4 linked regions of the Homo sapiens genome follow. The protein of the gene in region 4 interacts with the protein of the main gene of each other region in a pairwise test. Each region holds a gene or a part of one and is shown on either strand. Other genes may lie near its edges.

Region 1 (7,348 bases), on a different chromosome or scaffold from region 4:
GAAGAGGCCTTGGCCTGTGCTCCGCATTGCCTACTCCTCTCACCTGGAAACACCGGACTTCAGGAGTCACTCGGCTGTGGCAGAAAATAAAGTTCTTGAAAGGAAAGCAGAGGCGCTCACTCACATCGATGCCCTAAACATCAATACCACATCAATGTCCCAAGTGGTAAATAGTGACTAAATTATTAATACATCCCACAAGATGGTGTGCTTGAGGTCATTAGTGTATTTTGAGAAATAGATTAATAGTTATCTTGTATTTTATTTTTATTACAAGTTCTTTAAAAACAACAAGAAAGACGTGAGTCTTTCTGTCTCTCCAGTCCTCAGGGGAAAGCAGTGTTGGATTTCTCCAGGGTTTTATCTGTGCTTCTCCTGGAGCCAGGTGTGGGGACAGCGTCTCCAGCAGTTCTCCCTCCCCTGGTGTGGTGGTGGAGCCCAGCCTCCAGGAGGACAGACTCAGCGAGATTTTATTTTGAAGTTTGCACATTCTCTAAAGCTTTTAGGGTGCTGTTTGTGTAGAATGGAGAAAGGGTTATTTAAGTATTTACTTCTAACCCTGCTCATGTTAACTGTATAAAGCCAACAGACCCTAATAAGAGAAAATTATAACCTAAATTAATATAGCTCAGGGCCAGTATGTCTACATAGTTCTATTTTGCTCTAGTTGAAATACTAATAAATGCAGTAAGAAAACACTATGTCTAAAATGTTGAAATTCTTTGAAATTCTTTTAAAGCTGATAGATTCTTGCATAGTAGTAGGGCATGAGGATTCAACATTTCTCCCCCATCAAGGTCTGATTTGATCAGAACTAAAGGATGTAAAGACAAAATATTACCATCAATTTAGGATGGGGGTCTAAGTCAAGCACAGTGGCTTATTCTTCGTATTTCTGTCTTAGATTTGGTTCTACTATTTATCCACAGACTCACTAGTTCATAATACAAATGAGGTGATATAAAAGCACTGTCAGGCCAAGTGCGGTGGCTCACACCTGTAATCCCAGCACTTTGGGAGGCCAAGGCAGGCAGATCACTTGAGCCCGGGAGCTCAAGACCAGCAACATGGCAAAACCTCGTCTCCACAAAAAATACAAACATTAACTGGTCATAGTGGCACACGTCTGTAGTACCAGCCAATTGGGAGGCTAAGGTGGGAGGATCGCCTGGGAGTTCAAGGTTACAGTGAGCTGTGATTACGCCACTGCACTCCAGCCTGGGCAAGAGTGAGACCCTATCTCAAACAAAAACACAACCCGCTGTCAGTTTTTATATATTTTGTATATATACATGTGTGTGTATATATATGTATGTATACAGTCGACCTTCTGTATCCATGGGTTCTGTGTCTGGATTCAACCAACTGTGGATCAAAAATATTTGGGAAAAATTTAAAATAATATAACAATAAAAAATATAACAAATAAATACCAATAAAATGTAACAATTTTATATAGCATTTACATTGTATTAGGTATTATAAGTAATCTACAGATGATTTAAGGAGTAAGGGACAGTGTGCTTAGGTTATATGCACATACAAAGCCATTTTATATAAGGGACTTGAGCATCCGTGGCTTTGGGTATCTGCAGGGAGCCCAGGAACCAGTCCCCCAAGGATACTGAGGGTGACTGTATATTTAAGTATAGATGTAACTGCCGGGCTCCAGAGCTTTGCATGTGTTATGTCACAGATTTTGTTCCTGTAGATTTTGCTACTCTTCTCAAAGCCTTTGGTGACTTTGACTACAAAAATTTTAGTGCCTTAGTAAAACCAAAGAACTCTTCGGTTCTCAAGCTTTGAGTTTTCTAAACTTAAGGTAGTGATTGCATTCTGATATTACTATTGGTAATTTAAGATGACTACTTTCAGTAAGTGAGGAAAATGGTGGAGGAGAACTTTTTGTGAATTGTGAGGGAATGGTGAGTGAATAAAGACTGAGCTCGCGAGAGTCTGGGGCTGAGTGCACAGTGTACTGTACAGTTCATCACTGTGTGGGGCCTTCCAGCTACTGTAGAGGATTCTGATGTTCAGAACATCGACTCTTCAGTGTTTTGTCTTCAGACACACACTCTTTTCACTCCTGTTGATACTGTACGCTCTCTTGAGGAGCAATGAGCACTCTTGCAGGCCCTGTGCCAGGTGCCGGGTCATAACAAAGACGATTCTCAGTCTTCCGTAAGTGGGAATCTGTGGGAGGCACATATGCATGTGGTGCGGCACACACGACAGAAGATTCTGGAAGCTGAATCTGTGAGGGGCACACGTGTGTGGTGGTGCTCCAGCACACACGATAGAAGATTCTGCAAGCTGAGTCTGTGAGGGGCACACGTGGGTGGTGGTGCTCCACACACATGATGACAGAAGATTCTGGAAGCTGGAATCTGTGAGGGGCACACATGCGTGGCAGTGCCCCGGCACACAAATGATGACAAAAGATTTTGGAAGCTGGAATCTGTCAGGGGGATACTTGCATGTGACTGTGCTTCTGTTCACAGAGAAGGTTCTGGAAGCTGGAATCTGTGAGGGGCAGCTGTATGTGTGGTAATGCTCCAGTACACATGTGATGACAGAAGGTTCTGGAAGGTGAACTCTGTGAGGGTTGGGTATGCATGTGGCCCCGCTCCTGTACACACACATGTGATAACAGAAGGTTCTGGAAGGTGAAATCTGTGAGGGTTGGATATGCATGTGGCCCTGCTCCAATATACACACATGATGATAGAAGGTTCTGGAAGGTGAAATCTGTGCGGGCAGATGTGTGTGTGGCCTTGCTCCAGTACACACACACACGTGATGACAGAAGGTTCTGGAATCTGGACTCTGTGAGGGGCGCACGTTTGTGTAGCGATGCTGCAGTCCATTGCGTGGCAGAAGGAGCATTGTCTTTCCTTTGGTTTTTGTCAGCTCTTTGTTTACTTGATAAATGCTTGAGTGTCTTCAGTTTGATAACTAGCAAAGGAAAACAGCGTGTGAGACTTCTGGTGTCCTTGCGGCTCCATGCATAGGTCTGTGCCTGACTGCAGTGCACCCACATGTTCACTCGAACAGGGGTACTTGGATTGTCTTAGCCACGCTGTTCATTTGGCCTCAGACTGAGTCCTACTGAAGTCCCATCATCAGTGGAAAGGGCTTGTGAGCTGAGTTTGTCCACGCAGCAGAAGGGTGGGCAGCAGTCTGGATGGTTTACACAGACACGGTGAGAGACGTTACCCGGACGCAAAAGAGTACACAGCGTGTGATACCGTTCCATGTACAGTCATACGTTGCTTAACGACGGGCTGTGTTCTGAGAAATGTGTCCTTAGGCTATTTTGTCATCGAGTGGCCGTCATAGAGTACCTTTCTACATGTCTAAGCCAACTCCACACTCGGCTCTATGCGACAAAGCCCATTGTTCCCAGGCTGCATACCTGTACAGCATATGGCTGTACTGAATACTGTAGGCAAGTGTAACACAACTGTAAATATTTGTGTATCTAAACATACCTAAACATAGAAAGGTATAGTAAAAATACCATGTTAAAGATGAAAAATGGCACACCTGTGCAGGGCGTTCACTGGGAATGGAGCTTGCAGGACTGGAAGCTGCTCTGCGAGAGTCACAATGAGTGGTGAGTGTGAGGGCCTAGAACGTCACTGTACTCTCCTATAGACTTTATGAACTCTGTGTACTTAAGCAATGCTAAATTTATATAAAAAAATTTCTTTAATCATAAAGTAACCTTAACTTACTGTAACATTTTTACTTTATAAATTTTTAATTTTTTAAACTTTTCCACTCTTTTGTAATAACACTTAGCTTAAAACACAAATACATTGTGTGTATATATATATATTCTTTATACCCTTATTCTGTAAGCTTTTCTTAATTTTCGAAACTTTTTTTTAAATTGTTGAAATCTAAGATGCAAATACACATTCATCCAGCCCTGCACAGGGTCAGGATCATCCATATCACTGTCTTCCACCTCCACACCTTGTCCCACTGGAGAGACTTCAGGGGCAGTAACAGACATGGGGCTGCTACCTCCTATGGTGACAGTGCCTTCTTCTGGACCCTCCTGAAAGACCTGCCTGGGGCTGTTTATAGTTAACTTTATTTTCATCAGAGAAGGAGTACACTCCAAGATAATGATAAAAAGTATAGTATAGTAAAATAGTAAATGATAGGAATTGTTCAGCTCCATTATAATCTTGTGTGGAACCACTGTCTATACACTGTGCGTTGTTGACTGAAATAAAGGCGCTGAGCCCTGGGCACTGCTGTAGGTGCAGTTGTCCAGCCTCACCTGGGTGTGGGCCCACCTGGTACTGCCGCTATGGGTCTGAGGGAGGTGTGAGATCGAAAACTTGCCTGTGCCAAAGTCCAGCATTGTCCTTCACCACTTATGGACCTGGTGGTTGTGGCCAGTTGTCAGAGTGACTATACTGTTTACCACCCAGACAAGGATGTCAGGGACTGCCCCAGGCAAACCAGGATCTGCAGTCACCCCAGGGTCTGAGAACCAGCTATATTTGTGACTTTTGCTTTGGACATATCAAAAACCTCCAAGAACTTGTAGCCTAACTCTATAATTTCACAAGTAAGAAATAAGTTATAGTATTAACTCTTCACATTTCATTTCAATCCCATGTCACTTAACCATCCGGAACTGACAGCCATAGGTTCTTCTGGTCTGTGGGTTTCTCCCCTGTCCCATTCAGTTTGGAGGCTCCAGGCTTGTTTTGGATCCTGCTTCCTCTGCTCTTCTTCCTGAGTGTTCACTGTGCCTCAGCAATGCTGAGTGCGGTGAAGCATGTGGTCCTGGCCCACCTTGAGGTGGCCCCAACCACAGGTGGGAGTGTTTCATTTGCACCTGGGGTTGGGGTGAACTAAGTGCTTGGTATGTTTGTGGAAAGCCGCACTGGCGGTCTCTGAAGGCGTGTGTGTGCATGAGGGTGCCGTGATGCACATGCGAGAGCCCTGAGGTCCCCTCTGAGACCTGGGAAGGACTCCCGTGACAGTTGTATGAGGCAGGCTGGGTTACTCCATTCCGCTGGCCTTTCTCTTCTAATTGTCCTCACATTAATTTTTTCAGTCCAGACTTAGAATAGATGCTCTTTGACTCAGGATGGGGTTACATCCCAATAAGCCCACCATAAGTTAAAAATATTGTGTCAGAAATGTGCAGCCTCCCGAACATCATGGTATATAGCCTGGCCTGCCTTTAACATGCCCAGAAGACTTGGATCAGCCTACGTTTGAGCAAAATCATATAGCACAAAGCCTGTTTTACAACAGAATGCTGAACAGCTCATGTAATTCAGTGAATGCTCTACTGAAAGTTGAAACAATGGTTGTGTGGGTACTTGAAGTACAGTTTCTACTGAGTGTGTATCATCTTTGCACCATAAAATCAAACAATTGTAAGTCAAACCATTGTGAGTAGGGGACTGTCTATAACAGCTAATATACCTGGGGCTTTAAATATTCAAAAACACCAGAAGAACGTGTTAGAATTTTTTATTTTATTTTATTTTTTTGAGACAGTCTTGCTCTTTCTCCAGACTAGATTGCAGTGGCACGATCTCAGCTCAGTGCAGTCTCTGCCTCCCAGGTTCAAATGATTCTCATGACTCAGCTTCCCAAATTAGCTGGGATTACATGGTGCGCCACCATGCCTGGCTAATTTTTTTGTATTTTTATTAGAAATGGGGCTTCGCCATGTTGGCCAGGCTGGTCTCAAACTTCTGACTTCAAGTGATCTACCCACTTCGGCCTCCCAAAGTGCTGGGATTATAGGCGTGAGCCACCGTGCCTGGCCCAAGTTAGAATATTTTGCCGGGGAGGTATACTGTATTAGTCAGCTCAGGCTGCCACAGCAGACTGCCATAGACTAGGCAGCTGGAATAGCAGAAATTCCTTTCTCACAGTTTTGGAGGCTGCAAGTCTGAGATCAAGGCACCAGCAGATTCATGTCTGGTGAAGACCCACTTCCTGGTTTACATGGCCACCTTCTGGCTGTGTCCTAGCATGGAGGAGGGGAAGGCTCTGGTCTCTTTCTCTTCTTATGACACTAATCTCATCATGGGGCCTTACCCCCATGACCTCATCACTTCCCAGGGTCTAGGTATGGGAGCTTGATATACCTGTGTCTGGTTTTGCCAAATAAGTATTGTTTATTTACTTAATATGAGAAAATTCAAGATAAAACAAAGATTGAAGGGATACTGAAAGAAAGGTTGAATTTATCATAGCTTTAGGGAGCAGAAGCCAAAGAGCAAGAGGAGCAGGAAAACAGCATGAGCGGGCAAGGGTCAGCCCTGCTGGCCCAGGTGCGCCCACAGAGCTGGTGGCCTCCTTTCAGAATGAAGTCCCAATGAGAGCAGAGCCCTGGGGAGGAAATTCTTTTGCTTTGAAATGAATTTGTTTTGTTTGGTAAGTAAGGTAGCAAATACCTTTTTGTGATGTGAAGAATGAATTTTGGCAGTTTCGCATTGACTTGTGCATTTGTCTTCTCTCCATGCAGGCGGGCTGGTCCGAGTCTCTGTTTTGGAAGCTCAACCAGTGGCTGATGATTCACATGTTTCACTGCCGCATGGTTCTAACCTACCACATGTGGTGGGTGTGTTTCTGGCACTGGGACGGCCTGGTCAGCAGCCTGTATCTGCCTCATTTGACACTGTTCCTTGTCGGACTGGCTCTGCTTACGCTAATCATTAATCCATATTGGACCCATAAGAAGACTCAGCAGCTTCTCAATCCGGTGGACTGGAACTTCGCACAGCCAGAAGCCAAGAGCAGGCCAGAAGGCAACGGGCAGCTGCTGCGGAAGAAGAGGCCATAGCTGCTCCAGCCGGGGCTCCGGGGCGGCAGCAGAGCTGGCACACCGATTCTGGGAAGCCCCGCGAATGATGGCTTTTGAATTAATGAGGCAGTGAATGTTTTGTGTTTACTTCTAAGGGAAATACTAACTTTCTTTCGCATTAGTATTAATTTTGAAGTAGCTACAAAGTATTTTTAAGAAATTATAATTTTATGACTGTCTGGCAGGCTCTGTCAGTTTAGCCGCGCCGGACCGTGTCAAGCATCTAGGAGAGGAGTCCATGGTGTCCAGGCATCGGGGCGTCACACCTGTTGAGGAGTGGGGTGGCTTTGAATGCTGGAAATGGCTTCATAGTGAAGTGCCTCCCACAGGGCGGGTGGGTCAGCGTTGACTCTTTCCAGCTGCACACTCATATGCCGTGTGTCTTATTCAGAAGTCACATTCTTTTCAGTTGGAGAGAATTGGGCTAAGATAGAAAATAACATGATTTGTTCCTTATTAAAGCTTCCCAGCGTATGAAATTCTAAGCTGGGTGGG
Region 2 (7,348 bases), on a different chromosome or scaffold from region 4:
ACCTACCCCTCTCTTTTTATTTATTTATTTATTTATTTATTTATTTATTTATTTAAGACAGAGTCTTGCTCTGTTGCCCAGGCTGGAGTGCAGTGGTGCAATCTCACCTCACTGCAACCTCTGCCTCCCGGGTTCAAGCGATTCTCCTGCCTCAGCCTCCCGAGTAGCTGGGACTACAGGCATGCGTCACCTCGCCCGGCTAATTTTTGTATTTTTAGTAGAGACAGGGTTTCACCATGTTGGCCAGGATGGTCTCAAATTTCTGACCTCAGGCAATCCGCCTGCCTCGGTCCCTAAGTGCTGGGATTACAGGTGTGAGCCACCATGCCTGGCGATACCTACCCCTCACCCCTCTTTAGGGCCACAGACTATGGAAACAAATTGTGGTGACAAACTAGACAGCCTGGCTCACTCGTTTAGATGCCCATCATAAAGCTCAATCTCTGAAAAGACCAAATGGAGTCAAACTGCTGATCAAGCCTACTTCATCCAGATCACTGCCACTGCCACCTAAACATATCATTCTACTTGGCATGGTAACATACCCACTACCAAGGAGTGGCACAAAACAGAGGACTGTATATTTCTGGTTCAACTACCTGAGTCTCTGGTTGGAATGGTACAGCCTGAGATTGTTAGGATTGTGACCACTTGGCTGAGTATCCTGCTTGCTGATTTCCCTGCAGTGGCCCATGTGGGTAAAGAGAAGAGATATAACAGGTCTCTATACATCTGTAAAAATGCCCTGGTCCCATTCATACCTGACATTTCTGAATGAAAGATCTAAGTGATAGTAGGCAACAACTGGAGAAAAAGTGAAACTATAGATGCTGGCATAGGACATATGCTTTTTGTTTTGTTTTGTTTTTGTGAGACAGTCTCACTCAGTCGCCAGGCTGGAGTGCAGTGGTGCGATCTTGGCTCACTGCAGTCTCCGCCTCCTGGGTTCAAGCAATTCTCCTGCCTCAGCCTCCTGAGTAGCCAGGACTCCAGGCATGCGCCACCACACCCGGATAATTTTTGTATTTTTAGTAGAGACGGGGTTTCACCATGTTGGCCAGGATAGTCTTGATTTTCCTGACCTCATGATCCGCCCACCTCGGTCTCCCAAGGACACATGGATTTTATAGCAATAATCCTGCCACCTGGGGAGGATATACCTTAGATCCCAGAAAGTGCAGGGAACAATTAATGTTCTCTTTATCCCTTAGATCCATCACTGCCACCTGGCAAAACAATCCTAGGGTCTGCCCAAGCCCAGTGGCAGCTGCAGCTGTCAATATGGCCAACTGTTGGGTGTCTCATTTCCATCCACATGATAGGAAAACTCACATGGACACGTCAGTACTGAGCTATTCTGCTGTGTCTAATGCCATCAAAGGTAGTTCTCAACAGTGACCTTGTGCAGACACACCAGCCAGCACAATTTTGTTTCAACCTGACAGATACAAATTCATCTGCTTTTCCTGATGTCTGAGTAGCCTTGGATTATACCATGTAGGCAACTGAGGCTGAAGCTCCACAGTGACACTGCCCTCAGGCTCAACTAAACATTGTTCTGGTGACTCAAATCAAGCGTAACATGTGGGAGAGAATGGGTCATGGAATGTCTCCTTATGGGGGCATGAGGGTTGCTTGGGTCCATCTATTGCCCCCTGTACTTATTGGCAGTAACATCAAAGATTGGCAGGTCAATCTAAACTCTCTTATGTGGGTGGTCGTGGATAACAGATTGGTCTTAGACAATATCCTGATTATCCAAAATGAGACTTACTGGTCCTCCAGGACCTTCACAGCTGGTTGAGTCCAGGACCCTGTTCAATATTGCAGGTTAGGGGCCAGACACAGTGACTCACACCTATAATCCCAACACTTTGGGAGGCTGAGACAGGAAGATGGCTTGAGCCCAGGAGTTTGAGATCACCCTAGGCAGCACAGCAAGAACCTGTCTCTGAAAAAAATAATAAATTAATTAGCCAGGAATGGTGTCGCACAGGCCTGTCGTCCCAGCTACTCAGGAGGCTGAGGTGGGAGGTCTGTTTGAGCCCAGGAGTTCAAGGTTACAGTAAGCTAGGTGGGTGACAGAGCTTGGGTGACAGAGCAAGACCCTGTCTATAAAAAAAATAATAATAATGTAGGTTGGCCTTACCCTGCTATTCAGAATATAGTTGATAGTAATCTTAATTAAATGAAGTATGAGACTAATTGACAGATTTGGTCCTAGCCTCTATCAGTCAGATCAATCAGACTGAATAGCACATTCGTGTGAAAATTTGAGTTAGGCCGGGTGCGGTGGCTCACGCTTGTAATCCAAGCACTTTGGGAGGCCGAGGCGGGTGGATCACGCGGTCAGGAGATCAAGACCATCCTGGCTAACATGGTGAAACCCCGTCTCTACTAAAAATACAAAAAATTAGCCAGGTGTGGTGGCGGGCGCCTGTAGTCCCAGCTACTGGGGAGGCTGAGGCAGGAGAATGGCGTGAACCCAGGAGGCAGAACTTGCAGTGAGCCGAGATCGCGCCACTGTACTCCAGCCTGGGCGACAGAACGAGACTACATCTCAAAAAAAAAAAAAAAAAAAGAAAAGAAAAGAAAATTTGAGTTAAACCAAGCCATGGAGGGCTTGGGCTTGGGGCAGACTGTTGGGGTGGCAATCCATCATGGCCCTGAGCATCCCTGCATATTCTTGCAGGGCACACCAAAGATACAAAGCCCTAACCACTCTTTACCTGGGCCATGTCTTAGGATTGTGTTTGCAGAGAGCAACCTCGAACGGTGTGGTGATGTCTCTTCCCAAAGAGCACATTTGCTGCGGTTCACTATAAAAATCATGAATTTCTCCAGCTTGGCAGTTCTCAGCTATGATGCACACCCCCTGCATGCACAGCGCCCACCTGGCCCCTCTGTGTCACCTCCGTGGGAGTTAGGGAACAAGATGAACCAACACAACCAGGCCAACAGTCTAGCTAGTGCCTTTGCTGTAATACAGTCCAATGTCTCTGACCTATCAGTGTCCATGAAACAGTAGCAGGCTAGCTTGTTGGCCTGGAGGCAGAATTAAATCCTAGACCCTTGAGACACCCAACACCCCTCCCGACACCAGGGTTTGACAAGTCCAGTCCTCCAGCCACCACAGCCCTTCCTTCCTGCCCCTCCTAGCCCTGTCACTTCCAATCCCTTCCTCCATCTATCGTATCTGTCCCCCCTTTTTTTTTTTTGATACGGAGTTTCACTCATGTTGCCCAGGCTGGAGTGCAATGGCACGATCTCAGCTCACTGCAACCTCCACTTTCCGGGTTCAAGCGATTCTCCTGCCTCAGTCTCCTGAATAGCTAGGATTACAGGCATGCACCACCACGCCTGGCCAGTTTTTTGTATTTTTAGTAAAGACAGAGTTTCACCATATTGGCCAGGCTAGTCTCGAACTCCTGACCTCAGGTGATCCACCCGCCTCGGCCTCCCAAAGTGCTGGAATTACAGATGTGAGCCACCGTGCCCGGCCTGTCCTCATCTTTTATCCCAAACTTGGTCTCCAGCTCTCAAAGCCCACCTCAGCCCCCTGGAACCCCTGGAATGAGAGCATGTACAGGAGTGCGGGATGGAAGCCCAGTTGGTGCTCAGAGGTTCAAAGGCAGGGAAGAGCATGGCCTGATCTCCCTAGCTACCCTGATATCCACCTGAAGTGGGATGCCTATTTTGTGCTGGGATGGGTTTGTTCATAGCCTCCTAACTACCCCCCATAACTGGAGTTCACATGCTGTGAACAGACAGGGAGCCTGAGGCTAAGAGGGGAGCAATGACTTGCCCACAGGCTCCAATGAGTCAGTGATATCTTCTGGACCCAGGCCCAGGCTGCCTGGCTCCAAGTCCAAAGCCACCCAAGGTCCCCAGCCCCTGCAGGCCTCGGTGTCCTATGGCCCAGCAGAGGCAAAGCAGACACAGGCATAGGCCCTGGCAGCTCACCTCTGTGCGGTCGATTTTAAATGGGTTCTGGAAGTTGGAGTCTTTCTCACTGATCCCCAGCTCCTGGGCCATCTGCAGATGAAGAAACACTAGTCATCATCTGCCTTCTCCTGAGTCCTGCTCACCAGAGAGTCATTCCTTCCATGCTGGGACCCAGACTCCTGACTTGGGCAGATGTGGGCCACATGATGATCCCATGGGAACTGGGTCAGCACAGAATCCCTTGAAATGGGGCCTCTGTGGCCCAAGATACCCTGAAGCTCCACAAAGAAAATGTAACCAAGCACTGACGTTCAGGCCCAACTGAAGGCAGATGTGAGGATCCTAGTCCACTACCCGACAGAGGGCTCCCGGGCCACCTCCACCCCAGTCCTTACCAGGCTGAGGATGGGCGAGTGGGGCCCCTGGTTGAAGACGCCTGTCTGGTTGCAGAAACTGATACCCCAGCGGATGAGGAGGTTCCAGTTGGAGTTGTGGTCAAAGTAATAGTGCACAATCCTCGGGAAGCGCAGCACCACATCGCCGAAGAAGGCCGTGTTCTCCACCACGTGGGAGAAAGCTGGCGAGAGGACCCTGATGAGTGGCCAGGGCAGATGCTCTCCTGGCTGCCTCACTGGCCCCTGGCATCCTCTAGAGAACAGAGACATCCACCAAACCCACCAAGCAAGGAAGGAACAGTGCCTACTGACCACAGGCTGCCAATCACATGTACAGTGCGAACTAGGGCCTTACATCCACCAGCTCACTGAGTCCTCATAACCACTTTTAGAGGGAGATGTGGCTGCTGTTCCCATTTTACAGATGGGAAACTGAGGCTCAGCAGCTAGTGAGTAGCAAATCTGGGCTGCAAACCCAGGTCCGTCAGCCCAAAGGCACATCTTGCTGCTTAGAAGACACATTTGCTGTGGGGACCAGAGAAGTGAGTGTTGTTCTGCACACAGATGCTGATGTATCACATGAGACTTTACTGGGCTTGACCCCCCCACCGACATGTTATCCAAATGTCCAGTGCTGGCCCTGGTGTTAACACAACTAGAGTGTCTGTGAGACCTCAGGTATCTTAGGATGGCCACACAACAGGCCAGCATTTTTCTTTTTTAATATTCTTTCCATTTTATTTCATTTTAAGTGCTTAAGTTCTTATTTTGAATGAATGAATGAATATATTTAATTAATTAATTAATTACTTTAGAGGTGAGGTCTCACTTTGTTGCCCAGGCTGATCTCAAACTCCTGGCCTCAAGTGATCCTCCTACCTCGGCCTTCTAAAGCTCTGGGATTATAGGCATGAGCCACTGCACTCGGCCTGAAATTATCTTGGACTTAACATAACATAACATAAAATTCATTCACTTGGCTTCCTCTAATGTTACCATCCTTTTTTTTTTTTTTTTTTTTTTGGAGACGGAGTCTCGCTTTCTTGTCCAGGCTGGAGTGCAGTGGCATGATTTTGGCTCACTGCAACCTCCGCCTCGCGGGTTCAAGTGATTCTCCTGCCTCAGCCTCCCGAGTAGCTGGGATTACAGGTGCATGCCACCACACCCGGCTACTTTTTTATATTTTTGGTAGAGATGGGGTTTCACCGTGTTTGGCCAGGCTGGTCTCAAACTCGAACTCAAGTAATCCGCCTGCCTCGGCTTCCCAAAGTGCTGGGATTACAGGAGTAAGCCACCTGCTTGGCCTAGTGTTGTCATCTTATATAACCAACATACAACTATCTAAACCAGGAAATTAACAGCAATACAATACTACCAACTAACCTAACAGACTTAATTTGAATTTTCTGTTTTCCTACTAATGTGCTTCTACTGGTCAACAGGTCAATTTAGACTGAGCTTTGTTAGTGTGCTGTAGGAAAACAGCCTGCTGCAAGACAAGCGTGGCACCATCTTGAAGCCATAATGGCTGAGGTTTGACCCGTGCACACCAAGGTATTCTGCAGCAAGGTCTTTAAACAATGCCGGTAGCATAGATAACCCCTCAAAAAGATGATTATTTAACTTCCCCAGTGGTCACAAGTTTCACACGAAAGCCTGAGATGTCACCAGCTGCATGTTTTAACCTAAAAGCTTGCTGTATAAACAATACTTTTGGCCGGGTGTGGTAACTCACCCCTGTAATCCCAGCACTTTGGGAGTCCACATGGCGGGTAGATCACTTGACATCAAAAGTTCGAGACCAGCCCGGCCAACATGGCAAAACCCCATCTCTACTAAAAATACAAAAATTAGCCGGGCCTGGGGGCGCATGTCTCTAATTCCAGCTACTCGGGAGGCTGAGGCACAAGAATCACTTGAACCTGGGAGGCAGAGGTTGCAGTGAACTGAGATTGTGTCACTGCACTCCAGCCTGGGTGATGGAGTAAGACTGTCTCAAAAGAAAAAAAAGAAAAGAATAGTTTCTGTACAAGCATTGTCGTCTGCAAAACAACAAGTAAAGAATACTTTCTGGAGGTTGGGTGTAGAGACCACCATCTCATTTCTGCCTGAGACATGGTTCTGTTCAGAAGTCCCTAATAAATGTTTCTTTCTGAGAAACTGGCGCTCTCAGCTCCCTTGGCCTTGGAGGGTAGGTTTGCACAGACCTGCTCACCAAGGAACATGTGTCCATCATGGTAGCAAGTCCCCCAGATCCAGGTTAGCCAAAAGTGTAACTGTGTAAACAGGTCTAAGCAGTCCCTATTGGAGCCAGCCTGTCAGAAAGGGCCCAGGCAGCCCTCACCAGCACTAAGAGGCCACGCAGAAAGATAAGTAGACTCCAAAGATATGCCAGGGTGGGTCTGAGACATGTCAGGCAGGGACCCCGGGGCTTCAGAATAATCTTGAACCTCAAAGAACTCAGGAAGTCAGCCTGATTCAGAGGGAAGAGCCAAGGCAAATCACTTGTCCTCTTTCATATAGAAAGTAGAGAGAACAGTGTCTTCCCCCAGAGTTATGGTGGAGATTTGAGTTCATGGTTGTAAAGTATCTACTATTTAATATATAAGAGCTGTCCGCATCCTCTCAGTGTAATCTAAGAAATGCTATTGTGGCCGGGTGCAGTGGCTCTCGCCTGTAATCCCAGCGCTTTGGGAGGCCGAGGTGGGCGGATCATGAGGTCAAGAGATCGAGACCATCCTGGCCAACATGGTGAAACCTCGTCTCTATTAAGAATACAAAAACTAGCTGGGTGTGGCGGCATGTGCCTGTAGTCCCAGCTACTTGGGAGGCTGAGGCAGGAGAATCACTTGTACGCGGGAAGTGGAGGTTGCAGTGAGCCGAGATCACACCACTGTACTCCAGCCTGGCGACAGAGTGAGACTCTGTCTCAAAAAAAAAAAAAAAAAAAAAAAAAGAAATGCTATTGCTAAAAAGTAGCCAGTTAATTAGGGAGGCCACTCACGAAA
Region 3 (7,348 bases), on a different chromosome or scaffold from region 4:
ATGCCACGTGTCGTGGTCTCTGCATGAGCTCATGTGCACGTCTCCACCCCTGATCCGGGCCCTGCATCCTCCTTGCTTGTTCTCAGCACGGGGAGTGGGGGTGGGTGGGGCTGCTCCCAGCCCCAGCCGTCGTGCTGACCCCCAGCCGTGCCTGCAGGAGATGGTCATCACAAACTTGCAGCCTGAGACCGCGTACTCCATCACGGTAGCCGCCTACACCATGAAGGGCGATGGCGCTCGCAGCAAACCCAAGGTGGTTGTGACCAAGGGAGCAGGTATGCAACCCGCCCTCCTCCCACCCACCAACAGCCCCTTTGCCCCCACTGGCACCAGAGCGTGACTCCAGAGTCCTTGAGCTCACAAGGGCAGGCAGAGGGTGCACCAGGCAGCTGGAACAGTGAGACAAAGGTGTGAGGGCTGCTCAGGTGGGTGTCCAGGGCCCAGCTTGGCCCCCCCCGCCCCTGCCTCCTCCTTTGTCACTCACTTCCTGTCCCCCCGGCTCCCACCAGACAGAAACAGTTAACAGCCACCTCTGACCCCTTTGCCCTCTCAACCTTTACTTGGGCTGTTCCCTCTGCCAGGATACCCCTTCCCCTGCTGGCTGGCTCCTCTTCTGCCTTTAGGTCTCAGCTCAAGGTACACCTGGCCCTGGAAAGCCTTCCCTGATTGCCTCATCCCATAATCTTGATCCTTCTGGGCCCCCTAGTCTCCTGTGCTTCCCCCATCCAGGCTCTGGTCGCCCCGGCTAGGTTGTTATTTCAGGGTGGTGCACCTGTCTTCCCCTACTGCACCAGGAAGCCACCTTTCTCTTGGTGGCCCTGCCTCAGTTTCCCCTTCTAGCCCCTCCATTGTCCCTTCCATCGTCCCCAAGGGGCTGGCTTTTTTTTCCAGCCAAAATGGAGCTGAATTAAGAAAAAGAGGCTGCCGTGAAGATGTAAGGGGAGGGTACACCGGGCGGAGGGCACAGCCCAGAAAAAGACTTGGGGGGTGGGGCGTGGTGGTGGTGGTGGTGGGCGGAACAAGCTCGGGTGTTTCAGGAACAATCGACTGACTTCTGTGGCCTTCATCCCAGTCCCCACACCCACCCTCTCCTCGGGGACCCTTGTAGCCACACCACTGTGTACCCCACCTTTCAGGCCTCCCAGCTGGACACAGCCCCTGCCCTTGTCCACACTATTCCCTTCACGCACCTTGTCTGCGTCCTCCAGCATCCAGCTCTAACGCCACCTCCTCCAAGCAGCCTCCTGTGATCTCTCCCTCCCTTCTTCTAGCCAGCAGGGCACTTCCCTCCTCTCTCAGGGACATTGTATTAGAGCTGTGTTTGCTAAGCAGAAACCACTGCATACGCTGCTCTCCCCACCACCCTGGGTATTCATAGCAGTCCATTCAAGGCCCTGATAAGTCCTGCAGTAGAGAAGTCCATTTTCATGTATACAGCCCAGCTTTCCCCCTTCTTTGCCTGATCCCAGAACCTCTCTCGGCACATTGATTACTACCCAGGCTGTGCGAAACAAAGAGCAGGGGCGGATTTTGGATTTCTTTATGTCCCATGGGTATTGGTCAGGTGCCTGCATTGAGCAAGGGCCAAATCAACAAGGCAGGAGATGGTTGCCTTATTAATGGAAGGAGGAGGGGTTCTCTGAGTCCTCACTTCCTTGCTGTGCTTTATGCGCCCCTAGCCCAGTGCCGGCTCTACACCTTTGCATGGGCCGTTCCCTCTTCCTGGAGCACGATTCCCCCAGATCTTCTCGTGGTTCCCTCTCTTTCTTCTTTCAAGTCTTTGCTTCTTAAGTGAGGCTTTCTTGAGACCTACTTTTATTTTTAAGACGGAGTCTTGCTCTGTTGCCCGGGCTGGAGTGCAGTGGCACGATCTTGGCTCCCTGCAACCTCTGCCTCCTGGGTTCAAGTGATTTTCCTGCCACAGCCTCCTGAGTAGCTGGGATTACAGGCGTGCACCACCACCCCCGGCTCATTTTTGTATTTTTAGTAGAGACAGGGTTTCACCATGTTGGCCAGGCTGGTCTCGAACTCCTGACCTGAAATGATCTGCCCATCTCAGCCTCCCAAAGTGCTGGGATTACTTACAGATGTGAGCCACCACACCCAGCCTTGAGATCCACTTTTAAAAATCACAACCCCAGGCTGGGCACGGTGGCTCACACCTGTAATCCCAGCACTTTGGGAGGCTGAGGCGGGTGGATCACCTGAGGTCAGGAGTTCAAGACCAGCCTGGCCAATATGGCGAAACCCCATCTCTACTAAAAATACAAAATTACCCAGGCGTGGTGGTGTGTACCTGTAATCCCAGCTGCTCGGGAGGCTGAGGCAGGAGAATCCCTTGAACCCGGGAGGCAGAGCTTGTAGTGAGCCGAGATGGGGCTACTGCACTTCAGCCTGGGCAACAGAGCAAGATTCTGTCTCAAAAAAAAAAAAAAAAAAAATCACAACCGCAGCTGGGTGCAGTGGCCTTATAATCCTAGCACTTTGGGAGGCCGAGGCAGGAAGCTCACTTGAGCCCAGGAGTTCGAGGCTGCAGTGAGCCGTGATCTCACCATTGCACTCCAGGCTGGGCAACAGAGTAAGACCCCCCCCAACTCAAAAAAATGTTATATTGAAGGAAAAGAATTAAAAATACAACCCCACCTTGTGCCTCTGGGCTGGCGGATGGCGCTGGGACCCTGACACCTGCCCCGTATCCCCGCAGTGCTGGGCCGCCCAACCCTGTCGGTGCAGCAGACCCCCGAGGGCAGCCTGCTGGCACGCTGGGAGCCCCCGGCTGGCACCGCGGAGGACCAGGTGCTGGGCTACCGCCTGCAGTTTGGCCGTGAGGACTCGACGCCCCTGGCCACCCTGGAGTTCCCGCCCTCCGAGGACCGCTACACGGCATCAGGCGTGCACAAGGGGGCCACGTATGTGTTCCGGCTTGCGGCCCGGAGCCGCGGCGGCCTGGGCGAGGAGGCAGCCGAGGTCCTGAGCATCCCGGAGGACACGCCCCGTGGCCACCCGCAGATTCTGGAGGCGGCCGGCAACGCCTCGGCCGGGACCGTCCTTCTCCGCTGGCTGCCACCCGTGCCCGCCGAGCGCAACGGGGCCATCGTCAAATACACGGTGGCCGTGCGGGAGGCCGGTGCCCTGGGCCCTGCCCGAGAGACTGAGCTGCCGGCAGCGGCTGAGCCGGGCGCGGAGAACGCGCTCACGCTGCAGGGCCTGAAGCCCGACACGGCCTATGACCTCCAAGTGCGAGCCCACACGCGCCGGGGCCCTGGCCCCTTCAGCCCCCCCGTCCGCTACCGGACGTTCCTGCGGGACCAAGGTAGGCGCGCGGCGACCCCTGCACCAGAGCCGGACCGGGCCTTGCGCCCACCCCCACCCCAGCCCCCTCCCTCTCCCCTGCCCAGGTAAGTGCTCACTTTTCTGCTTCCTCGTGGTCACTCAAGGCAAGTCCGGACCCCGAGGCTCCGGCGTTGGCAAAGGTGGGACGTGCCTCGGTGGCACCACCGCCCCCCACCACTGCCCCCTCCCCTTGCTCCCCTCCCCCCTCTTCCTCCTCCTCCACCTTCTTTCTGCAGCCTCTGCACCCGTGCCGTCTCCCGAAGCAGGGACTTGGGACAGGACAGGGCAGGGCCGGGCCAGGGCCAGGCAGGAAGGCCGTGGGCATGGGCACAGCGGACGACAGGGAGCGCCTGGGCCGCCCCACCCCACCCCGCTTCACGCCACCCAGTGCCAGGCACTCATGGGGCCTCTCTTCTGCTCTCTCCCTGCTCGGCCGCCTCCCCGGCAGTCTCGCCCAAGAACTTCAAGGTGAAAATGATCATGAAGACATCAGTTCTGCTCAGCTGGGAGTTCCCTGACAACTACAACTCACCCACACCCTACAAGGTGCGACTGCCCAGCCAGCAGGCAGGCAGGCAGGCAGGGTCAGGGGTTGTAGTTCAGCAGGGCTTAAGGCTCAGTTTGGAGTTGGTGTGAAGTGAGGGATCAGGGCTCAGTCAGAGATGGGTCTCAGCTAGGATTGAGGCTTAGTCAATACTGGGAATCAGACTTGGGGCCCAGCCTAGGATTGGAGATCAGCTGGAACTGAGGTTCAGTCAATATTGGGGATCAATGTTGGGCTCAGCCTTGGATTGTGGCTTAGCTGGGATTGAGGTTCAGTCTGGGATTAAGATTTAGTCCATATTGGAAATCAGAGTTGGGGCTCAGCCTTAGATCATGGCTTAGCTGGGACTGAGGCATAATCAGGATTGGGACTCAGAGTTGGTACTTAGCCTGAGGTCAGAGTTTAGTCTGGAGTTGGTGCCAAGTCTGGGATCGGGGGTCAGCCTGGGATTGAGGTTCAGTCTGAGATCAGGAATCAGTCTAGGATCAGGTCTCAGAGGTGGGTTTCCACCTAGGGTCAGCGCTCAGCTGGAATTCAGGATCAGTCTGGGTTCAGGGTTCAGTGGGATTGGGGCTCAGTCGGGACTGGGAATTCAGCATGGGATCAGGGCTCAGTCAAAGTGGGCTTCTACCTAGGATCAGGACTCAGCTGGAATTTAGGCACAGTCTGGGGTCAGGGTTCAGTGAGGTTGGGGCTCAGTCAGAGTTGGGGACTCAGCCTGGGATCAGGGATCAGTCAGTGTTAGATTTCTGCCTAGGGCAGGATTCAGTGGGATCAGGGCTCAGTCAGGGTGGGGGACTCATCCTGGAGCTGGGGCTCAGTCCATGGGCATGAGCCCACCAGGCCCTGCTGAGCTAGCCCTGGTCCGCAGATCCAGTACAATGGGCTCACACTGGATGTGGATGGCCGTACCACCAAGAAGCTCATCACGCACCTCAAGCCCCACACCTTCTACAACTTTGTGCTGACCAATCGCGGCAGCAGCCTGGGCGGCCTCCAGCAGACGGTCACCGCCTGGACTGCCTTCAACCTGCTCAACGGCAAGCCCAGCGTCGCCCCCAAGCCTGATGCTGACGGCTTCATCATGGTGTATCTTCCTGACGGCCAGAGCCCCGTGCCTGTCCAGTATGCTCACCCCCATGCTCCGGGTTCCTTGTCACCCCCATCAGCCTACTATATGGCTGGGGCAAGCCACGTGCCCTCTCTGTGCCTCAATTTCCTTGCCTATGAAACACAGACCCTATCAGCCCTAGTTCATGGGGTCATCCAAGATTCAATGCTTCTCATGGGTCATTGTCACTAAATGTGTCCTGTGTCTGCTCTTCTAGCATTTCCTGATACCCCATATGCCTGACCCTCCACTGGGTATTACTAGGGCCCCTGAAAGGATTTGGTTCTGGGCTTCCCAACTAGTGGGGAGGCAAAGCTGAGAGTCCCCAGTGGGGAGAGGAGCACTCTGCCTCAGAGGCAGAGAAGATTTAAGGGCTACAAGGTTATGTGGGCATTGAAGCTGGAGCTTTGAAGGATGTATAGGAGTTTAACAATGAGCATTACATGAAGTAAGCCTTCTACGCAGAAAGTACAGCATCATCCAAGGCCTGGAGGCCTGAGTCAGCAACTGTGGCGTTTGTGGATGGGGCATAGGGGAATAGGCTCATTGTATGAACAGAAGGGAAGACTCAGAGAAACGGCTTCCCCCGTTTGCCCCCATGAAGCATCCCTTGGTCATCCCTATCGACAGCCCCTCTGACTCTTTCCCATCTCCCTACAGGAGCTATTTCATTGTGATGGTGCCACTGCGCAAGTCTCGTGGAGGCCAATTCCTGACCCCGCTGGGTAGCCCAGAGGACATGGATCTGGAAGAGGTGAGGGCCTGGGGCCCAACCCGCAGGGCCCAGATGCATTCCAGTTTTCACGTGCTCTGTTGCTCCCAGCTGAGCTCTGAGCCACCCATGACTCTGTTCCCGCAGCTCATCCAGGACATCTCACGGCTACAGAGGCGCAGCCTGCGGCACTCGCGTCAGCTGGAGGTGCCCCGGCCCTATATTGCAGCTCGCTTCTCTGTGCTGCCACCCACGTTCCATCCCGGCGACCAGAAGCAGTATGGCGGCTTCGATAACCGGGGCCTGGAGCCCGGCCACCGCTATGTCCTCTTCGTGCTTGCCGTGCTTCAGAAGAGCGAGCCTGTAAGTCCTGAATGGTGTCCGCCCACATCCAGACACACCTCTGAATGAGGCAGACCCCATTCCCCAGGGCCCTGACCTCTGTGGTCAGTCACAGGCAGCTCCCTGTGGTCAGAGCTGGGCAGAGGGGAAGACTTGGGAGCGGAGGGATCCTGAAACGAAGGTTTCTTAGAGGAAGAGACCTTGGAGCTGGGGCGTTGAGGGGTGAGTAGGAGTTCAACAAAGAAAAAGCATCCCAGGATTTGCATGTGCAAAGGTCTGGAGGTACAGAAAGGAGAGTGGCTGGAGCAGAGAAGGGAATGGGGAGAGCAAAGATTGGCAGGGACCAGGTCACATAGGCCACCAGGGTCAAGGTTCTAGGAATATAGGAGGATCTAGAGCGGGGGAGAAACGTAGGTTCATGTTTGAGAAAGACCCATCTGGCCACTACAAGGAGGGTGGACACTGATGGAGACCCCCCTCCTTTCCCTGCAGACCTTTGCAGCCAGTCCCTTCTCAGACCCCTTCCAGCTGGATAACCCGGACCCCCAGCCCATCGTGGATGGCGAGGAGGGGCTTATCTGGGTGATCGGGCCTGTGCTGGCCGTGGTCTTCATAATCTGCATTGTCATTGCTATCCTGCTCTACAAGAAGTAAGCCCCATGTCCTCCCCGACTTGACTTGACAGCAGGGAGGGCTTCCTGGAAAAGGAGGGAGGAGTTGTCTCAGAGAATCATCACTAAAGGTCTCTGTTGTACACATGGGGAAACCGAAGTTCAGAGAGGTTAAGCCACTTGATCAAGGTCACACAGCATGGGAATGGCAGAGCTAGGGCTCAAAGCAGGCCAGTGGCTTGGCTTCTCCTCTTAACCCCTATCTTCAACTCAGCAAGATTTGGGGTAGAGGCTGCCTGTGTCCAGTTCAATGAGGATAGCAATTGTAGTGGCCCCATGGGGCACATCCCAGGGCTGAGATAAGCCTCCTTGTGGTGTCGATAGGCAGGGGGACAAACAGGAAATATGAGCACCATTTTCCAGAGGAGACCAAAGCTCACAGAGGTTAAGGAAGGCACTGAGAGTCACAGAACAAGCCCTTGATGGCCGGCACACCCTCACCTTTCTTCTTTTTTTCCCCCTTCTCACCTGTGTCTGCTTTCGGGAACAGCAAACCCGACAGGTAAGAACCAGCCCTCCCCCGTGGAGGCTTCAGGCAAGAGGAAGAGGACAGGGAATGGGCTGATAGTGTGCCCACAGGAGAGGGGATGCCCGGCTGCCCCCACAGCTTGTACACGTAGCTGTACTTGGTCCTG
Region 4 (7,348 bases):
CAGCCCGTTGCTGGCCCCACCCAGCATCTTCCTTGCCTAAGATGCCCCTGTAGGGCATCCCCGATCTGCTCCAGCCCCATCCTCTAACGGGGAGAGGGCCAGAGCTGGCCTCTTTTTTGAAGTCTGCGGTCTGGGGTGGAGAAGGCAGTAACATAGCTCCTATCTGGCAGTGTGGTGGGACCAGCCCTCACCTTCCGCATCCGGCACAATGAGCAGAACCTGTCTTTGGCTGATGTGACCCAACAAGCAGGTAAATATCTCTGCGACCTCAATCCCAGGCTTGGCCCCAGCCCCACTCCTAAGAGGATATATCCAGGCCTGTTGCTGATGCCCCCTTGAAATGTTCCCAGCCCACATGGGCCCTGCCTGCTGCTTGGCAGAGCAAGACAGAGGATGGAGACCACATGGGGCTGGAGCAAGCCTGACCTTTGTCCTCCCTGCAGGGCTGGTGAAGTCTGAACTGGAAGCACAGACAGGGCTCCAAATCTTGCAGACAGGAGTGGGACAGGTATGCGCTAACTGGAGAATCAGTCCAAGTCCCCAGAGGGCTGATGTTGTCCGCAAGAGCTGGAGGCAAACCAGAGGGGAGAACTGGAGCCGAAACGTGTCCGTAGGCACGGCTGGCTGGAGGCGGCCTTCGCCCAAGCAGCCCCTCCCCGCAGTTCTCTTTCTCACCAGCAGATGGCGTAGGTGTCCCCTCCCTGCAGGACCAGCCCTCTGTAGTAAAAAGGCCTGAGAACTAGTTGAGCCGCCCTTAGTCTGCTGGAGCGCAGTCTCCAAATTCCAAGGGAACACCTTGCACAGAAAGGACATTATACTCAAAATATGTTTTGTTTGTTTGTCTGAGACAGAGTTTCACTCTTGCTGTCCAGGCTGGAGTGCAGTGGCTCGATCTCGGCTCACTGCAACCTCCACCTGCCAGGTTCAAGCGATTCTCCTGCCTCAGCCTCCCAAGTAGCTGGGATTACAGGTGCCTGCCACCACACCCGGCTAAATTTTTTTTTGTATTTTTAGTAGAGATGGGGTTTCACCATGTTGGCCAGGCTGGTCTCGAACTCCCGATCTCAGGTGATCCGCCAACCTTTGGCCCCCCAAAGTGCTGAGATTACAGGTGTGAGCCACCACGCCCGGCCTATACTCAAAATACCTTTGTCTTCTGCATCCAACACTGATGCCTCACGTTCTACAATTCAATTCCTAGGGTTCTCTGTCCGTTTTTAAATGCAAACACTCCTGGTGGGGGCCTCTGGCACTGCACTGTGGTTGAGTTGATCCGATGGGGATTGAGAAGGAGAATCTGAGCCCATCTGGCTGTACCACCATACCCCTAATCTCCCAGCTTTGCCCCAGGAGATGTCCTAACAGGGGGTGTGGCATGGGACCGGGGTGAGGAGCAGCTCTGAAACCTCCCTATGCCACTGCCTCCCTTGATTCTAGCCTTGTTCCCACAGAGGGAGGAGGCAGCTGCAGTCCTTCCCCAAACTGCGCACAGCACCTCACCCATGCGCTCAGTGCTGCTCACTCTGGTGGCCCTGGCAGGTGTGGCTGGGCTGCTGGTGGCTCTGGCTGTGGCTCTGTGTGTGCGGCAGCATGCGCGGCAGCAAGACAAGGAGCGCCTGGCAGCCCTGGGGCCTGAGGGGGCCCATGGTGACACTACCTTTGAGTACCAGGTGTGCAGCCCCAGAAGCTGATTGAGCAAAGGAAATGCAAGGGGCCTGGGAGTCTGGGTCTTGCGTGGACTAAGGGTCGGAACTGAATGGGGAGTGAGCCCTCATCCCTGGGAAGGTCCAGTGGAGGCTGGAGAAGCCCCAGTGGGAGGGAGTATGGTAGGGGCCTTTATGAACGCATGGGAATTGGGAGCATACAGTGCCTAAGGTTCTTCTTGGTGCTGTGCTTCTGGGGCTCTGGGATTCCACTCTGTCATGTCTGAGGTTGACATAAGCACCACCCAAGCAAAACAGCCCTGGAAAGGATCAGGGCCAGGCAGAAGACCATACCCCAGAGGAGCTGAGTTCCACTGAAAATCAGTCAAGGGCAAGCCTAGGAGCCCAGAGTTGAACCCAGGGCCCTGTTGAAAAGTTTCAGGGGACTCTTGGACCTCACCTGATTCTTCCTCCACAGGACCTGTGCCGCCAGCACATGGCCACGAAGTCCTTGTTCAACCGGGCAGAGGGTCCACCGGAGCCTTCACGGGTGAGCAGTGTGTCCTCCCAGTTCAGCGACGCAGCCCAGGCCAGCCCCAGCTCCCACAGCAGCACCCCGTCCTGGTGCGAGGAGCCGGCCCAAGCCAACATGGACATCTCCACGGGACACATGATTCTGGTCAGGACAGGGCCTGGGCCCAGAGTGGGTGAAGGAATGGGATGGTGAGAGAGGCCAGGCTGGCTGTGTGGGCCAGAGCCAGACCGTGGTGCCCCCACAGGCATACATGGAGGATCACCTGCGGAACCGGGACCGCCTTGCCAAGGAGTGGCAGGCCCTCTGTGCCTACCAAGCAGAGCCAAACACCTGTGCCACCGCGCAGGGGGAGGGCAACATCAAAAAGAACCGGCATCCTGACTTCCTGCCCTGTGAGTGAACCCTGCTGGCCCACCTGGCCCAGCCCTCTCTCTGCTGCGAGGTCTGGAGGGCTTGGGGTAAGGGGTTGGGCTTCTGGCTCAGGCTGAGTGGCAGAGGTCCCGCGATGCCAATGACCAGAGGGCCATCTGGGGTGGGGTGTCGGGTCTGTGCAGATGACCATGCCCGCATAAAACTGAAGGTGGAGAGCAGCCCTTCTCGGAGCGATTACATCAACGCCAGCCCCATTGTGAGTGGCCCTGACTCCAGCCCCCACCTCTGCCCCATCATTATCCTGGCCCTATGCACTCCATTTCCCCGTGGTCACCTGCCACCCCACCAACCCCCTGGAGTGGTGGGGCCTGATATCCTAGCAAGGGGGAACTGCCAGCCTTCTCAGACCCTGACCCACTTGCTCTGACCACGCCTGTCCATAGTGGCATTTCCCACACTGGCTCATGGTGTATCTTCCCTGCCTCCAGATTGAGCATGACCCTCGGATGCCAGCCTACATAGCCACGCAGGGCCCGCTGTCCCATACCATCGCAGACTTCTGGCAGGTGGGCTCTTAAAGGGAGGGCTTCGCTGGGGTCCTTGTGGCCACGAGGTCCCAGGGAGGTTAGAGTGGAGCTCAACTGGGTCTCTGTCCCTAGATGGTGTGGGAGAGCGGCTGCACCGTCATCGTCATGCTGACCCCGCTGGTGGAGGATGGTGTCAAGCAGTGTGACCGCTACTGGCCAGATGAGGGTGCCTCCCTCTACCACGTATATGAGGTCAGCAGGGCCCCACAGCAAGGGGACAATGGATGTGGGAAGAGTAGATGATGGCCTTTTCGTAACGTTTTCTTCACCAAATGAGCACTCAACAGTCTTTTTAAAAAGGCTTTTATTGGCCCTGCTCATGATTCATACATATATGAATATATATAAACACATATATGCATACCCATATATTCACATATATACATGTGTGTGTCCTGTTTACAGAACATACATGTGTGTGTGTGTGTGTGTGTGTGTGTGTCCTGTCTAGAGTCAAAAAGCGTTCATAGAGACTTATGATAAAGGCACAGAGATCAAACTATAAAACCACCAAAACCGAGGTAAGAAGCTAACAGCTAAGTGTATATTAGACAGGGAAGATAAGGATACCCAAAGACTGAGATTAAGACCTACGTTAATTGAACCTAATTTAGCTCTGAGTTTCCTGGTGGCCAAAGCAAAGAAAGACATACCACCCGTTACATACGTTACTAATGTAAAAGAGAAACAAACTTTTTCATTAGGAGAGAGACTAGGTGGAGGGGTGGAGAAGGAGGGGGAACTGGGCAGAGGCCAAGCAGGGGAAAGAGAAATATTTCAGACAAATGGGAGAACGTGAGTCCCCACTAAGACAAAAAAACCTTAAGAACACAGCAGAAGCTTCTCATCACCAGATGAGCCTGAATAGTAATTTTTTCCCCACCAAATAAGCACATGACGGTTTTTTTAAAAAGCCTTTCATTGGTCCTGCTGGTGGTTAACGAAAAAAATCCAGTAAGAATACTACAGAATTTCATCCAAGTTTATGGCACGTGTAGCACCGATACTCTGGTAGACCCTGCGAGGAAGAGGGAGGAGAAACTCCGACCTCGAGAGGCTCACAATAGCTGTGTCTGGGTGGAAAAGCTACTAGTGGTCCTGAGCAGTAGATAAGTGACAGGCAGCCAGGGTTCCTGGGACCGCTGGAACTTAGAATTTGAACCGGCCTGGGAGGCCGGGCGGTGGTTGGAGAGACCGAGAAGGTCGCGAGGAGAGCGCGCGCAACGCGGGGACTGGGGCAGCCCGCGGCGCTCAGGCCTGGGCCCCTGCCGGGCAGGTGAACCTGGTGTCGGAGCACATCTGGTGCGAGGACTTTCTGGTGCGGAGCTTCTACCTGAAGAACGTGCAGACCCAGGAGACGCGCACGCTCACGCAGTTCCACTTCCTCAGCTGGCCGGCAGAGGGCACACCGGCCTCCACGCGGCCCCTGCTGGACTTCCGCAGGTGAGCGCGGGCGCCCCCGCCTGGAGGGACCGCATGGGCGGGGGCGGAGCCGGGGTCCGCCCGCCGCTCGGCCTGGAGCCCCGGGTCGGGCCTGGAGCCTCGGCCTCTGACTTCTGGCCGCCCGCTCCAGACCCCACGCTCCCACCCCTAAAAGCAGGCCTGAGGCTCCGGCTGTGCCCTTCCCCGAGCCTCCACCACCCGCGTGGGCCAGCTCCGCGCCGGCCGCTGCTGCTCTGCTCCCTCCCTCTCACGCTCCCGGGACTGGCTCCTTCTCCTCCACCTGCTTCCTCCAGAGGGCCCTCTGCTTTCTGTCTCCCCTCCCTCTCCAGGACCCCTGCTTCCTTTCTCCTTCCAGTTCCCTCCTGCCCCGCTGTCTCCAGGCCCTGCACTGCGCTGCCTTGCTGCCCCCTCCGTCTCTCACTCCCGCCTGCCCGTCTCCCCTCCTTCATCCCTCTCCGTCCCTCCTTCATCCCTCTCCGTCTCTTCGCCTCTTTTTTCTGTGTCTTTCATTCTTTTTCCTTTCCTCTTTCTTCCTCTTCTCTCTCCCCATCTCTCTCTCACTCTGTCTCTGCCTCACCCTTTCCCTCTCTCTCCATTTCTCCCTCTCCGCGCTTCTCTTCCTTTCTCTCTGCCCTCTCCCCTGTTTTTCTCCACCTCCTTCCCCTGTCTGCCAGTTTCTCTCTGCTGCTCTGTCCGTCTCTCCCTCTCCCTCCCGCTGCCTGTCTTTCCTCTCTCTGTCCTTCCCTCTCCCTTCTTCCCTCTTTCTCTCTCTCCCTCACAGCTGCCAGTGTCATTTTTGTGATCTGCAGCTAGTATTCTCACTCCAGTTGCATAGTCACAAAAGTGATCATTGGCAGGTGTGGCTGCTGCATGGACAGACAGGACATGTGGCCCGGGGACCACCCCGAGCTGGGAGCAAGGGGTACAGGGAAGAGGCAAAGACTGTCGAAAGGAGTGTGGGAGGATCTCTGGATTCTGGGGGGCTCAGTGGAGCAGGTGGGGACTAGACAGGGGCTACCTGAGGGACTTACCCTTTTCCAACACTGACACCAAGACAGGTCAGCCCTCCAGCGTCCCCTGCTTTTCCTAGCCCCAGACAGGTACTTGGGAAGCCCACTACCAAGGGCAGGGGCCCACCCACACTGCGCCCTTCTCCTGGTTCTCTGTCCCTTGCCAAGCTGGCCTGATGTCTCTAGGTACTGGACAGAGGAGCAGAGCTGGGGGTGGGGACATGGGTATAGTTTCTGAACCTCAGGACAGCAGTTTCTAACTGGGGTCCCTGAGGCCTGAGACACAGGCGTCTTGAAAGCAGTGCCAGGGTATCAGAGCTATTTCCTTTTTTCCATATTTAAAAAATCCTGGTAGAACTAGTGCATGGATCTGTTTTAAAGCTGCACAGATAAGCTAAAAGATTGCTTTAGGCTGGAATTATGTAAACTCAGTTGGCATTAGACATCCAGAACAAATAAACTGTTGCTTAAGAAATGCAGTTCGGGGCCGGGCGCGGTGGTTCACACCTGTAATCCCAGCACTTTGGGAGGCCGAGGTGGGTGGATCACTTGAGATCAGGAGTTCAAGACCAGACTGGCCAACATGGTCAAACCCTGTTCTGCCAAAAATACAAAAATTAGCCAGGCAGGGTGGCGAGCGCCTGTACTCCCAGCTACTCGGGAGGCTGAGGCAGGAGAATCTCTTAAACCTGGGAGGCAGCAGTTGCAGTGAGACGAGACCGTGCCACTGTACTGCCACTTGGGCAACAGAGCCAGACTCCCTCTCAAAATAAATAAATAAATAAATAAATAAATAAATGCAGTTTGGTCAAGCCCCCCTAGAAGGAAAACAAATTAATAAAAGAGACCCTAAGAAAGTGACCCTGAGTAAGTTCCTTGGCTTCCCTCCATTCCGCTACCTGTGAGATGGGGATGATTACACATACTTTAGAGCAGAGGTTCCCAACCTTTTTGGCACAAGGGACCGGTTTTGTGGAAGACAATTTTTCCACGGCTGGGAGAGGGGGTGGTTTGAGGATGAAACTGTTCCCCCTCAGATCATCAGGCATTAGATTCTCATAAGGAGCTCACAACCTAGATCCCTCACATGTGCAGGTCACGATAGGGTTCGCACTTCTGTGAGAATCTATTGCAATGGCTGATCTAACAGGAGGCGGAGCTCAGGTGGTAATGTTCGCTTGCCTCCTGCTATGCGGCTCGGTTCCCAACAGGCCATAGACTGACACTGGTCCATGGCCCAGGGATTGGGGACCCCTGCTTTAGAGGGCTGTTGCAAGATTTGATAAAGTATGTAAAATCTAGTGTAAGTGCCTGATACATAGCAAGGGCTCCGTTAATTCTAGATGCTGCCTATTATCATTATTAAATGAGCAAAAACAACTATTGTGATTACTCTTCTACCCTAGCCCTCTGACGTAACAGCCAATGAGCTAGAAAACCATGTGGACTCCTATGAAGCCATTCTAAGTCACCTGGTCCTATAGCTGAAGGACTGTGAAGTTCCAAACTTCAATCTGACAACCCCTAAGAAGGTCTTCCCTGGTTCTGGCTTGCAGGGATATCAGGAGTATGCAGGTGACTCCCAAAGCAGAAAGGTCATAAAGGACAAGGGCAGGTTAGATGGGTCCATTGAGAGACGGAGAAGCCCCCTGCTCCTCACTGAGTTGTGGTCAGGGGCAGTGGAGAAAGGTCTGAGGTCCAAGGGGACCCCAAGTCTGAATATAACGCAGCCACAGAATGCCTGTGCTGAAGTGAGAC

The links.
Region 1: the proteins of PTPRN (region 4) and CLN8 interact in a two-hybrid assay, tested with the Homo sapiens proteins (one study listed by BioGRID).
Region 2: the proteins of PTPRN (region 4) and CCDC134 interact in binary tests that used the Homo sapiens proteins (3 or more experiments, as listed by UniProt).
Region 3: the proteins of PTPRN (region 4) and PTPRS interact in binary tests that used the Homo sapiens proteins (3 or more experiments, as listed by UniProt).

The regions. Positions count from the first base shown.
Region 1 is NC_000008.11:1,773,736-1,781,083, forward strand, and holds part of CLN8 (protein CLN8), read left to right. Parts: exon of another isoform or gene 1-1,461; intron 1,462-6,514; coding exon 6,515-6,832; 3' UTR 6,833-7,348. UniProt on the Homo sapiens protein: Could play a role in cell proliferation during neuronal differentiation and in protection against cell death.
Region 2 is NC_000022.11:41,810,438-41,817,785, reverse strand, and holds part of CCDC134 (coiled-coil domain-containing protein 134 isoform 1 precursor), read right to left. Parts: intron 4,523-7,348; coding exon 4,341-4,522; intron 4,036-4,340; coding exon 3,964-4,035; intron 1-3,963. UniProt on the Homo sapiens protein: Molecular adapter required to prevent protein hyperglycosylation of HSP90B1: during translation, associates with nascent HSP90B1 and the STT3A catalytic component of the OST-A complex and tethers them to a specialized translocon that forms a microenvironment for HSP90B1 folding.
Region 3 is NC_000019.10:5,218,654-5,226,001, reverse strand, and holds part of PTPRS (receptor-type tyrosine-protein phosphatase S isoform 1 precursor), read left to right. Parts: intron 1-157; coding exon 158-275; intron 276-2,704; coding exon 2,705-3,313; intron 3,314-3,781; coding exon 3,782-3,879; intron 3,880-4,748; coding exon 4,749-5,002; intron 5,003-5,648; coding exon 5,649-5,742; intron 5,743-5,847; coding exon 5,848-6,063; intron 6,064-6,534; coding exon 6,535-6,692; intron 6,693-7,203; coding exon 7,204-7,215; intron 7,216-7,348. UniProt on the Homo sapiens protein: Cell surface receptor that binds to glycosaminoglycans, including chondroitin sulfate proteoglycans and heparan sulfate proteoglycan.
Region 4 is NC_000002.12:219,292,207-219,299,554, reverse strand, and holds part of PTPRN (receptor-type tyrosine-protein phosphatase-like N isoform 1 precursor), read left to right. Parts: intron 1-170; coding exon 171-250; intron 251-443; coding exon 444-508; intron 509-1,451; coding exon 1,452-1,670; intron 1,671-2,121; coding exon 2,122-2,322; intron 2,323-2,422; coding exon 2,423-2,570; intron 2,571-2,732; coding exon 2,733-2,806; intron 2,807-3,038; coding exon 3,039-3,116; intron 3,117-3,209; coding exon 3,210-3,329; intron 3,330-4,413; coding exon 4,414-4,580; intron 4,581-5,354; exon of another isoform or gene 5,355-5,444; intron 5,445-7,348. UniProt on the Homo sapiens protein: Plays a role in vesicle-mediated secretory processes. Required for normal accumulation of secretory vesicles in hippocampus, pituitary and pancreatic islets.